Linked DNA regions of Homo sapiens. The protein of the gene in region 2 purifies or fractionates together with the protein of the main gene of each other region. This does not show direct contact. Each region holds a gene or a part of one and is shown on either strand. Other genes may lie near its edges.

Region 1 (3,658 bases), on a different chromosome or scaffold from region 2:
CTCGGCCTCCCAAAGTTCTGGGATTACAGGAGTGAGCCACTGCACCTGGCCCCATTGCTTTTTAATATCCATTTCGATTCAGTCTTATCTGTATTTGAACTCTAGCTCTAATTAGTGGCATGATCTTGGGCAAGTCACTTTACCTCTCAAGGCATTTCCCCACCTGCAGAAGGGGAATAACTATCTCTCCTTGTATTTTAAAAGATGATACATACAAAAGGTTCTAACACAGTCAACCATTACAGTTACCTAGTTCATGGTCACTTTTCAAAGGAAACAAAGTTGAAAGTTGAAGTGGAGGCCATTGATGAAAGGGTAGGGCCATTTTATTTCTTAGTATAGAATCTAGCAAAAAAATTAAGGGAGGAAGTTGTAGACTAATGACTGTAATGAACTTAAGGGGCTGTTTCTTGATTTTAATTATCCATGCTATTGCTACCCCCATCACCACAGACAATCAAGAAGCATGAGTCAGCACTGGCATAGCAACATGGCCTAGCAACCTAGTAATGTAGGTTAATGTTTTTCTTTCTCATTAAATGAATAAATGAAGCAACTTCTTGTTTTTTCTTTTCTTCATTTTGGTTTCAGTGACAAAATGTTCCCTGCCTTTGGGTTTGGCGCCAGGATACCTCCAGAGTACACGGTGAGTGAGTGGAGATGTGATCTTCTTCCACTTCACTGTGGTCAAAGGATAACTTGGCTCTTCTTTGCAGCAGTCTCACACTCCTGACTCTGACCTAACTGTGTCAGTAGGGCCTACAGAGTCAGAAATTGTCTTCAGAATCAGTGAGATTAACTCGCCAGGGCCCGTCTCTTGATGAAACCCTATCTCCTGGTATTTTGGATGGGTCTTCTCAGAGGTCCAGATGAAGAGTTTCATTGTTTAGTTTCTTATAAATGTGGTCAGAGTCTGAGAAAACACTCAAGAAGTTGATCTCCAGGGGCTCAGAACCTATTCACTCGTATATCCCCTAGGAAATAGAATTCTATTGGCAATGCCAACTGGGAAAGTCCGTGACAATGGAGTCTACAGACTTTCTTATCCCAAGTCTCCGAGTCCAAGTCTTGTATGGGAGACACAGAGAAGTTTTGAAGAAAGAACTATTATGACTTAGAGAATTGGGAAGCTGAAATGTTCTTCTGAAGACGTTGGAATCCTATTTGGTTTTGATAATGATTTCTCATGACAGAAAAAAGGCAAAGATTGTGTGTAGATAAATTTGCACTGTAATGAGGCTGAGACACTACTGTGATATTCTAGATGCTCCTGTAGAACATTCTCCACAGAGAACTCGTGCCCACTAGGTGGACAGGGCCTTGGAGAGACAGCAGGGTACCTCTCCCAGCCTCCACCTTACCAGTGCCTCTGAGGTCTGAGCTAAGTACAAACAACACTGCCCAATCCTCAATTTCTCTTTTACTGGCTGTGTCTGAGCCACAGGTGAGGAGGTAGATGCTGACATTTGCTCCCTCACTAGAGCCATCATATAAAGGGCTTTCCCCTTAGGTATCCTTTTTGAAAGAGGAAATCAATATCCCTGTTGCTCCTAGAGTGAATAGTGGATGGAATCGCTTGTCTCCCTGACCTGTTCTCCTTCTTTCTTGCCTTGTATTCCACACTGGCCTTTCTGCTGGGCATAGCTACATAATTCTAGAAGCATTTATTAGAAATACAGCTTGTGGAGAGAAAGAATATAGAACAAGAGTTATCAACTGGTGGCCTATAGACATTATTCAGGCCACAAATATGTTATATTTGACACACTTTTAAAAAACGAATTCAGCAATTGCATATATAAAATGTCAGATTTCTGGTTTCTCTTGAAAACCTGAAAGGCCTGGCAACACTAAGATTAAAAGATGACCGATACAAGAATAAGCTGGAGCTGAGGAGATATAGGCCCCTTCAAATCGGGAATGTAAACAGGTGAATGCCCACTTTCTTCATAGAGCTGCTGAATAGCTCAATAGCCATCAGCCCAACTACCCAGGGATTCTTGAGTTTTCACCACATCCCCACCAGGTGGTCTTCCAGCCTCAGGTTGGCCCAACAGGGCTGAGGACAGAGCTATGCACCATACCTTTTTCTCACTAATGACATCTTTTTGGTTCCCTTCCTGGAGTAACTAATCTTTCTTGCTGTTTTCTGAAGTCCTCTTGTTCACTTGATCCCCTAACTCCATCCTTCCTGTCAGCAAAATCCCCTGGTTATTCTTGTTTCAATAGGCATCTCTCACATTTCCCCATTTCGGGTCCCCTAATTTCTCCCATTCCTCAGACAAGCACTGATGATTTGAGCAGCTCAGGTGCCCCCAGGAGAGTTTACAAGGTTGCCACAATTTACTTCTTAGGACAAAATCTGAAAGTATGCATTGAAACTGAAACACAAGCACCTCTCTTTCTTAGTTAGCACTTTCTCAGAAACAGATCTTGAGACAAGGGTTTGGATGCAAATAGTTTATTTAAAAGGTGAGGGAAACCACAATAGAGGTTGGGAAGTGGAAGTCAGCACAGAGTATATTATCAAGTCAGTTACCGCTGTTGGCAACTGGTGCTTAACTCTGCTGAAGAACCCTAGGAGACAATATACAGCACACATGGACCCCAAGGGATAAGGGAGCTGGGATATGTATACATCACCTCCTGTTAATTACTGATTACTCCCAAGGGTCACTTTTAGCCTGTCACTTGGGCAAGCAAGGCAGGCCCTGGAGGCCAAGAAAAAACTTAAGGTAAACAAAGCAAATAAGATGACTGAAGTCAGCTGGCTTACCTGGAAGTGCTAAGAGCAAGGGACTAGGATAAGCACTGAGAGCATCACCGATCACCTCCCACTAAGAAAACAGGTGTCTTTTAACACAGTGACCTAATTTATGGATACCCAAAAGAGTCAGAGCTTGGAAATATCCTTTGAAATGAAATTCTCCATAAAATACCAAATGATTCAATAAAAATGTCCAGATGCCAGAACATCTATCTTGTTTTATCAGGTTTTCGGAAAGAAAAAAGTAAACAATATGTTATTTGACCTTGTGCATAGGTTCTGCCAGGTAGAGGAATTTGTGTTGAAATATTACAAAGTATATTACTTTACTATGTTTCCAAAAGTAGAGTGCAGTCTGTTTTACCTGTAGGTATGTGAAAATCCTCCTGCCCTGTAGTTCTGCATATCATGTTAATGATTCTTAAGTGTCAACTGCTTAGCTGAAGCTTTTATAACCATCGCTATCTTCAGCAGACAGCTTGGGTTATTGAGTTTTTTTGTTTTTATTTTTGTTTTAATCACTGGGTCCAAATAGAGCTCAGCCAAATCTAAGCCTCCAGTCTGTGGCCAGTTCTAACTAGCAGCTATTCAAAGTTATCTTTCTGAAATCTTTTCTTGGATTTTTTTATAAGCCTTATTCTCCCCTCCTGACAGCATTTATCTGATTCTAGAAAATATTCCTGTCACCTCAACTCCACAGGGAGCTTAGAATTCACCCTCCATCTCATATTGATTGTGTAAAGGCTTGAAATGGTTCCTGCTGCTTAACACATAATGAATATAATGGGCATTTGTTTGCAAACTCTAAACCCCAGTGCCTTCTTACTGGATTAAAGTTGTAATTCTTCTTTCTTCCTGTTTTTTAAATTTTAATCGGTGTCTAGGTCTCTC
Region 2 (2,528 bases):
TCAAGTCACTGCAATCCAGGCTGGGTGACAGAGACCTTGTCTCAAAAAAGGAGGAATATCTAAGAGAATAAAATATGCTTACTTGCTCCAGGAATAAATTAAAAAATATAAACTATCAACCACCTTTAGTGGAGACCACTAGCTGTACCTAACTCAATTCTGTACTTTTTTCCCCAACTTTTCCTGGGCACATGACTACCTGGAATGAAAGCTATATTTTCCATCCTTCCTTGCTATTTACAAGTAAGGCATTATGACTAAGTTTGGCCAGTGACATTTAAATAGAAGTGTTGGGTACAACTTCTGGGAAATTTCTTTAGACAGGGGATGTAACTTTCTCACTGCCCTCTTTCTTGCTGGCCAGAGTGCTGCTGTGAGGGCTAGAGCTTCACCAGCAACCTTGGATCATGGGTTGAATGCCAAGTGCTGAGGTTGGTAGACTAACACAGCAACCCTGAAATACTTACCTCTGGAATTCTTTCATGTGAGAGGAAAAAAAAATTCTCTCTCTTTTTTTTTTTTAAGCCTCTGGTATTTGGGGTTTTAGTTTTATGCTGCTGAACCTAATCTTAAGTGATACACTTTTCAATTGCTGACATATTAATCCTTTATTAGAAATTGTAAATGAGAAATTATATCAACACCTGAGGACCAAACTACAACAGAATATTCCATAGGCTCAAGATTTTGAGACATTCTGGAAAGAGTTTTCTGTAAGGTATATCCTTTCCGTGGCATGGCAACATCATCATTCTTTAAAAAGGTGACTGGACAGACATCATTTCCACCATCACCAATATAAACAATTTGTGTATAATTCACTCCCTGTTGTAACTGTTTATCTACAAATTCTATCAAAACTACCTTTTTGCAAAGATTCTTTGGGCATCTATTGCAAGAATGAGTATGATAATTTTCAACAGTGAGATGACCATTGCTATTAAAAGCTGCTGGATTTGTAAACACTTTATCAAATATGTCATGAAAACTGGCAGCTTCTAAAACCCAATCTATGAAGACCGAATTTGAATCTGAAATAATAATGCAGTCAAATTTATCCTTATTCTTTCTTATAAAGTTGAAGAGTTCCACCATCCCTGGAGTGAAAGGCAATGATGTCACTGCTCTTTTCATTTCATGTTCTCTTACACCCTTATCTCCCAAATACTTAAAGACTCTGCCCATAAATTCTGTCCAAAATCCTTTTCGATAAGAATCACGTAGTTCAATAGGAAGCTTTTTGTTGGGAGCACATTGTACAATCCAAGTGTCACTATTGTCATCTATGATTGTATTGTCAAAGTCAAAAACTAGCAAAATTTTCATGGTTCCAGAAATAGATTTGGATTACCCTGAAAAAGAAGAAATATTATTCCCTAAACAAACTCTGTTTACATATCTAGCTAAAATACTTATTTAATAAACATAACTAAATGTTAATCTGCTAAAGGGAGGAATATAAACAAAGTAATTAAGCACTTCAAGACCACTACCTAACCACTTTTCTCTAAGAAGCAAAGTTCGTATTTGAGTATTTTAAGTGGAAAACAAAATATATAAAAAGGACATTCATAGTATTATTGTGTTCCTGGAGGTGTGTTTCTTATAGAATTTATAAGAAAGAAAAAAAAGCATTTCTTACTATCATTAAATTATCAATCAAACCACACTTATTTTATTAGATTAAAATATTTACAATCCTCATATTAAATAACAGATCATGTATAAAGGACTCTCTGTGTACTAACCAAAATTCTGAACAAATTTAACATAACATGAAATCTTGGAAGATGTAAAATAACTTTTTAAGAAAAGGTATTTAGTAACAAAAACAAGCAATGGGGAAAGGATTCCCTATTTAATAAATGGTGCTGGGATAACTGGCTAGCCATATGCAGAAAACAAACTGGACCCCTTCCTTAACACCATATACAAAAATCAACTCAAGGTGGATTAAAGACTTAAGTGTAAAACCCAACACTATAAAAAACCTAGAAGAAAATCTAGGCAATACAATTCAGGACACAGCAAAGGCAAAGGTTTCATGACAAAGATGCCAAAAGCAAATGCAACAACAGCAAAAATTGACAAATGGTATCTAATTAAACTAAAGAGCTTCTGCACAGCAAAAGAAACTATCAACAGAGTAAACAGACAACTTAGAGAATGGGAGAAAATTTTTGCAATTTATCCATCTGACAAAGGTCTAATATCCAGCAACTATTATAAAGTTGAAAAGTTCCACCATCCCTGAAGTGAAAGGCATCGATGTCACTGCTCTTTTCATTTTATCTTCTCTTACACCTTTAGCTCCCAAATAGTTAAAGACTCTGCCCATAAAATCTGTCCAAAATCCTTTTTGATAAGAATCATGTAGTTCCTTGATAAGGAACTTAAACAAATTTACAAGAAAAAACAAACAGCCCCATTAAGAAGTGGGCAAAGACACAAACAGACAATTCTGGAAAGAAGACAATACATGTGCCCAAGAAATATATGAAAAAAAAGCTCAACATCACTGATCATTA
Region 3 (3,658 bases), on a different chromosome or scaffold from region 2:
TAAAATATAATATTATAAGCCGTCACACCTATAATCCCAGCACTTTGGGAGGTCAAGGTGGGTGGATCAAGACCAGACTGGCCAACATGGTGAAACCCCATCGCTACTAAAAATGCAAAAATGAGCCTTGCGTGGTGGTACATGCCTGTAATCCCAGCTACTCAGGAAGCTGAGGCAGGAGAGTTGCTTGAACCCGGGAGGTGGAGGTTGCAATGAGCCGAGATCGCACCACTGCACTCCAACCTGGGCAATGGAGTCAGACCCTGTCTCAAAAAATATATATATTATAAGCAGGAAAAATGAATACAACTGCAACTTTATACAACATGAATGAATCATAATACAATGTTGAGTCTACAAAGCAAGTCCAAGAAGTGTGCGTGGAACATGATACCCTCTGTAGATTCATAAACAATTAAAACTAAATAGTGGCATAAGCCTACATATATGTGACAACACTAGGAAGACAAGATTCACAACAGTGGTTACTGGGAATGGATCAGGGAGCAACACAGGTGGATACAAGTTATCACCAATGTGTTAGGTCTTAGGTTGGATGGTGGGTTTGCAGTTATTTATCATATTATGAACCAAAGTGAAAAAGTAAAAGTAAATGATGCTTGTTCCAGTCATGACAGCTTGGTCATGAACTAAGCATTTTGGACAATTCGTTCGGGGCAACACTAGATCAATTTTATAAAAGAGGAGAGGAGACACGCTGGACAGAAACAGCAGGAGAGAAAACTGCAGGGGCTAAAGAAGCCCCAGCCCCTGTCCTTCAAGAATTCCACAGATATTGGCCGCACGCGGTGGCTCACACCTGTAATCCCAGCACTTTGGGAGGCTGAGGCAGGCAGATCACCTGAGGTCAGGAGTTCGAGACCACCCTGGCCAACATGGTGAAACCCCGTCTCTACTAAAAATACAAAAATTAGCCAGGTGGTGCATGCCTGTAATCCCAGCTACTTGGGAGGCTGAGGCAGGAGAATTGCTTGAGCCTGGGAGGCAGAGGTTGCAGTGAGCCGAGGTTGCGCCAGTGCACTCCAGCCTGGGTGACAGAGCAGGACTCCGTCTCCAAAAAAATAAAAATAAAAAAGAATTCTACAGATATGATGAGTGGGTGGAGACAGGTAAAGGCAGTGGTGATGTGTGATGGGGACGGGGATGCATGTAGGGCTGTAAACACAGAAGAGAAGGGGCAGATATCAACAGGAGGGGAAATGACTAGAGTAGCAGATACTGAGATTAGAGCTGGAAGGATTAGATGAGGTAGTCTGGTGGAAACAGGGAAGGAAAGGTGGAAGAAACTATACTTGCAAGGGCTCAAAGTTGTAGGACAGCAGGTCCGTATGGAGACAGAAGGCCAGCGTGGCCAGGCCACGGGGCAGGATCAGAGGACAGAAACAGGCTGAAGTGGCCACCTGGTGTGGGGCAAGGAACATGGGCCTGATTCTCTAAGCAACAGGAACAAACAACAACAACATTGAAACTCCAGGCTGCCTGGGAAGTAATAGTTTTGGGGCGATGATTCTGGCAGCCTGAAGTTTGGAATGAGAGATGGAGGCAGGGAGGAAGTGAGGCAGGCTCTGTGGTCAGTAGAGGTGGGGAGGGAAGATGAGCAAAGGACAAGTTAGTTTTACTTTTAGAAAGAAGGTTGGTGGCCGGGCGCGGTGGCTTACGCCTGTAATCCCAGCACTTTGGGAGGCCGAGGCGGGCGGATCACCTGAGGTCAGGAGTTCAAGAACTGCCTGCCTAACATGGCAAAATCCCGTCTCTACTAAAAATACAAAAATTAGCCGGGCATGGTGGTGTGCGCCTGTAATCCCAGCTACTTGGGAGGCTGAGGCAGGAGAATCGCTTGAACCTGGGAGGTGGAGTTTGCAGTGAGCCAAGATCGCACCATTGCACTCCAGCCTGGGTAACAAGAGTGAAACTCCATCTCAAAAACAAACAAACAAACAAACAAAACAAAGAAGGTTGAATGGGACATAATGATTTCCTGGCTCTGGGATATGAAGGGGGAGAACAGGAGAGAAGAGAACTCCCAGGTGATGAGGGAGGAGTGGGTTTGGTGGAATGCTGAAGAGCTCAGCCTGGACTTTCCGAGTGGACATGCACATGAGAAGATCCCCAAACCACTCACCGAGGTGATGGTACCCATAATGGGGTCTTCATCATCCATTTTCTCTGGTCTCCCAGCTGCTTGCTTCCTGCGGGCTTTCACTCTAAGGAAAGAAACCAGCACAGTGCAGCTGGGACCACCCAGGCACGGGTTAGCGGGTTGTCCCATCCCATGCTAAGATGGTGAAAATGACAATGAAGCCATCCAGGCCCCGGAACTAAACTCGGAGACCTTCCTGACTTCGGAGTGAGGGCTCCATCCTCCTGGATAACCAGGGATTTGGTCAGGGTGGCCATGGACTGAATTTCCATCATATAGACCCCCTCTTACACACAAAACCATGGCAGGAATGGTCATAGCAGTGTTATGCATCATAGCCAAGAAGCAGAGGCAACCCAAGTACCCGTCAACAGCTGAACCCACAAATCAAATGCGTTCCATTTATATAATGGAATATTATTTGAAAACAAAAAGGAATGAAGTATCGATGCATGCTACAACATAGATGAATCTTGAAAACATTAGGCCGAGTGAAAGAAGCCAGCCACAAAGGACCACATATCGCGTGATTCCATTCACACAAAGTACAACTGCAACTTCAGGACAGACAAATCCACAGAGACATGGAATAGGTTAGGGCTGGGGGAAAGAAGCAGGAGTGATAGCTAAGGGGTGCAAGGTTTCTTTATGTCTTCGTTTTTCACTTTAGGCTGATGAAAATGTTCTAAAATTGATTTTGGTGACAGATGCATAACTCTGTCAATATACTTAAAGCCATTGACTCGTACACTTTCAGTGGATGAATTGTACAAAACATGTATCTCAATAAAGCTATTAGAAAAGAAAAAAAGAAAGAAGACCTCTCTGGATCTACTCAGTTCTGCTTTTTGTTTTGTTTTGTTTTTCTTTTAAGACAGGGTCTCTCACTCTGAGGCCCAGGATGGAGTGCATTGGCACAATCCTGGCTCACTGCAGCCTCAACCTCCATGATCAAGTGATCCTCCTGCCTCAGACTCCTGAGCATCTGGAACCACAAGCACACATCACCACCTCTGGCCTTAGCTCTGTGTTTCTGAGATTCAGTCTCTCCTACTCCCTACAAACACCACCCTGTACCTTCCCTGGGACCAAGACTTACATTAAAAAGAAGATGAGGCACAGACAGATACAGAGCAGGGCCATGACACCAGCACCACCAAGGGCTGCAGGAACCACTCCTGTCCCGAGGTTCGATCTCCCTGCAGAAAAGAGGGGCGTGCAATAACTCACTCCCAGGACTCAGACTCTTGTCCTCCCACCTGCTGGGCAACTTGCTCCAGGGCCCTGCTCAGACAGGAGATGAAGAACCCTGTCTCCCCACCACCAGTCCAGCCTCTCTCTCCCACCATCCATCACTCTGGGATCCATGCCCCTCCCCTCAGGCCCCTGCCCTCTGCAATACGCCCCCTGACCTTGCAGCAGCAGGACAGAGCCGCTCTGGGACCCATAGATGTTCCAGGCCTTGCAGCTGACTTTGAGGTCGGAGCTGAGCCCCCC

Evidence for each region.
Region 1: the proteins of PHOSPHO2 (region 2) and CPNE4 purify together in Homo sapiens (affinity purification with mass spectrometry; one large-scale study listed by BioGRID and IntAct). This does not show direct contact.
Region 3: the proteins of PHOSPHO2 (region 2) and SIGLEC5 purify together in Homo sapiens (affinity purification with mass spectrometry; 2 studies listed by BioGRID and IntAct, with this or other methods). This does not show direct contact.

Annotation. Positions count from the first base shown.
Region 1 is NC_000003.12:131,552,485-131,556,142, reverse strand, and holds part of CPNE4 (copine-4), read left to right. Parts: intron 1-591; coding exon 592-646; intron 647-3,651; coding exon 3,652-3,658.
Region 2 is NC_000002.12:169,699,770-169,702,297, reverse strand, and holds the end of PHOSPHO2 (pyridoxal phosphate phosphatase PHOSPHO2), read right to left. Parts: intron 1,353-2,528; 5' UTR 1,327-1,352; coding exon 601-1,326; 3' UTR 590-600; downstream 1-589. UniProt on the Homo sapiens protein: Phosphatase that has high activity toward pyridoxal 5'-phosphate (PLP).
Region 3 is NC_000019.10:51,623,889-51,627,546, forward strand, and holds part of SIGLEC5 (sialic acid-binding Ig-like lectin 5 isoform 1 precursor), read right to left. Parts: coding exon 3,574-3,658; intron 3,361-3,573; coding exon 3,261-3,360; intron 2,226-3,260; coding exon 2,144-2,225; intron 1-2,143. UniProt on the Homo sapiens protein: Putative adhesion molecule that mediates sialic-acid dependent binding to cells. Binds equally to alpha-2,3-linked and alpha-2,6-linked sialic acid. The sialic acid recognition site may be masked by cis interactions with sialic acids on the same cell surface.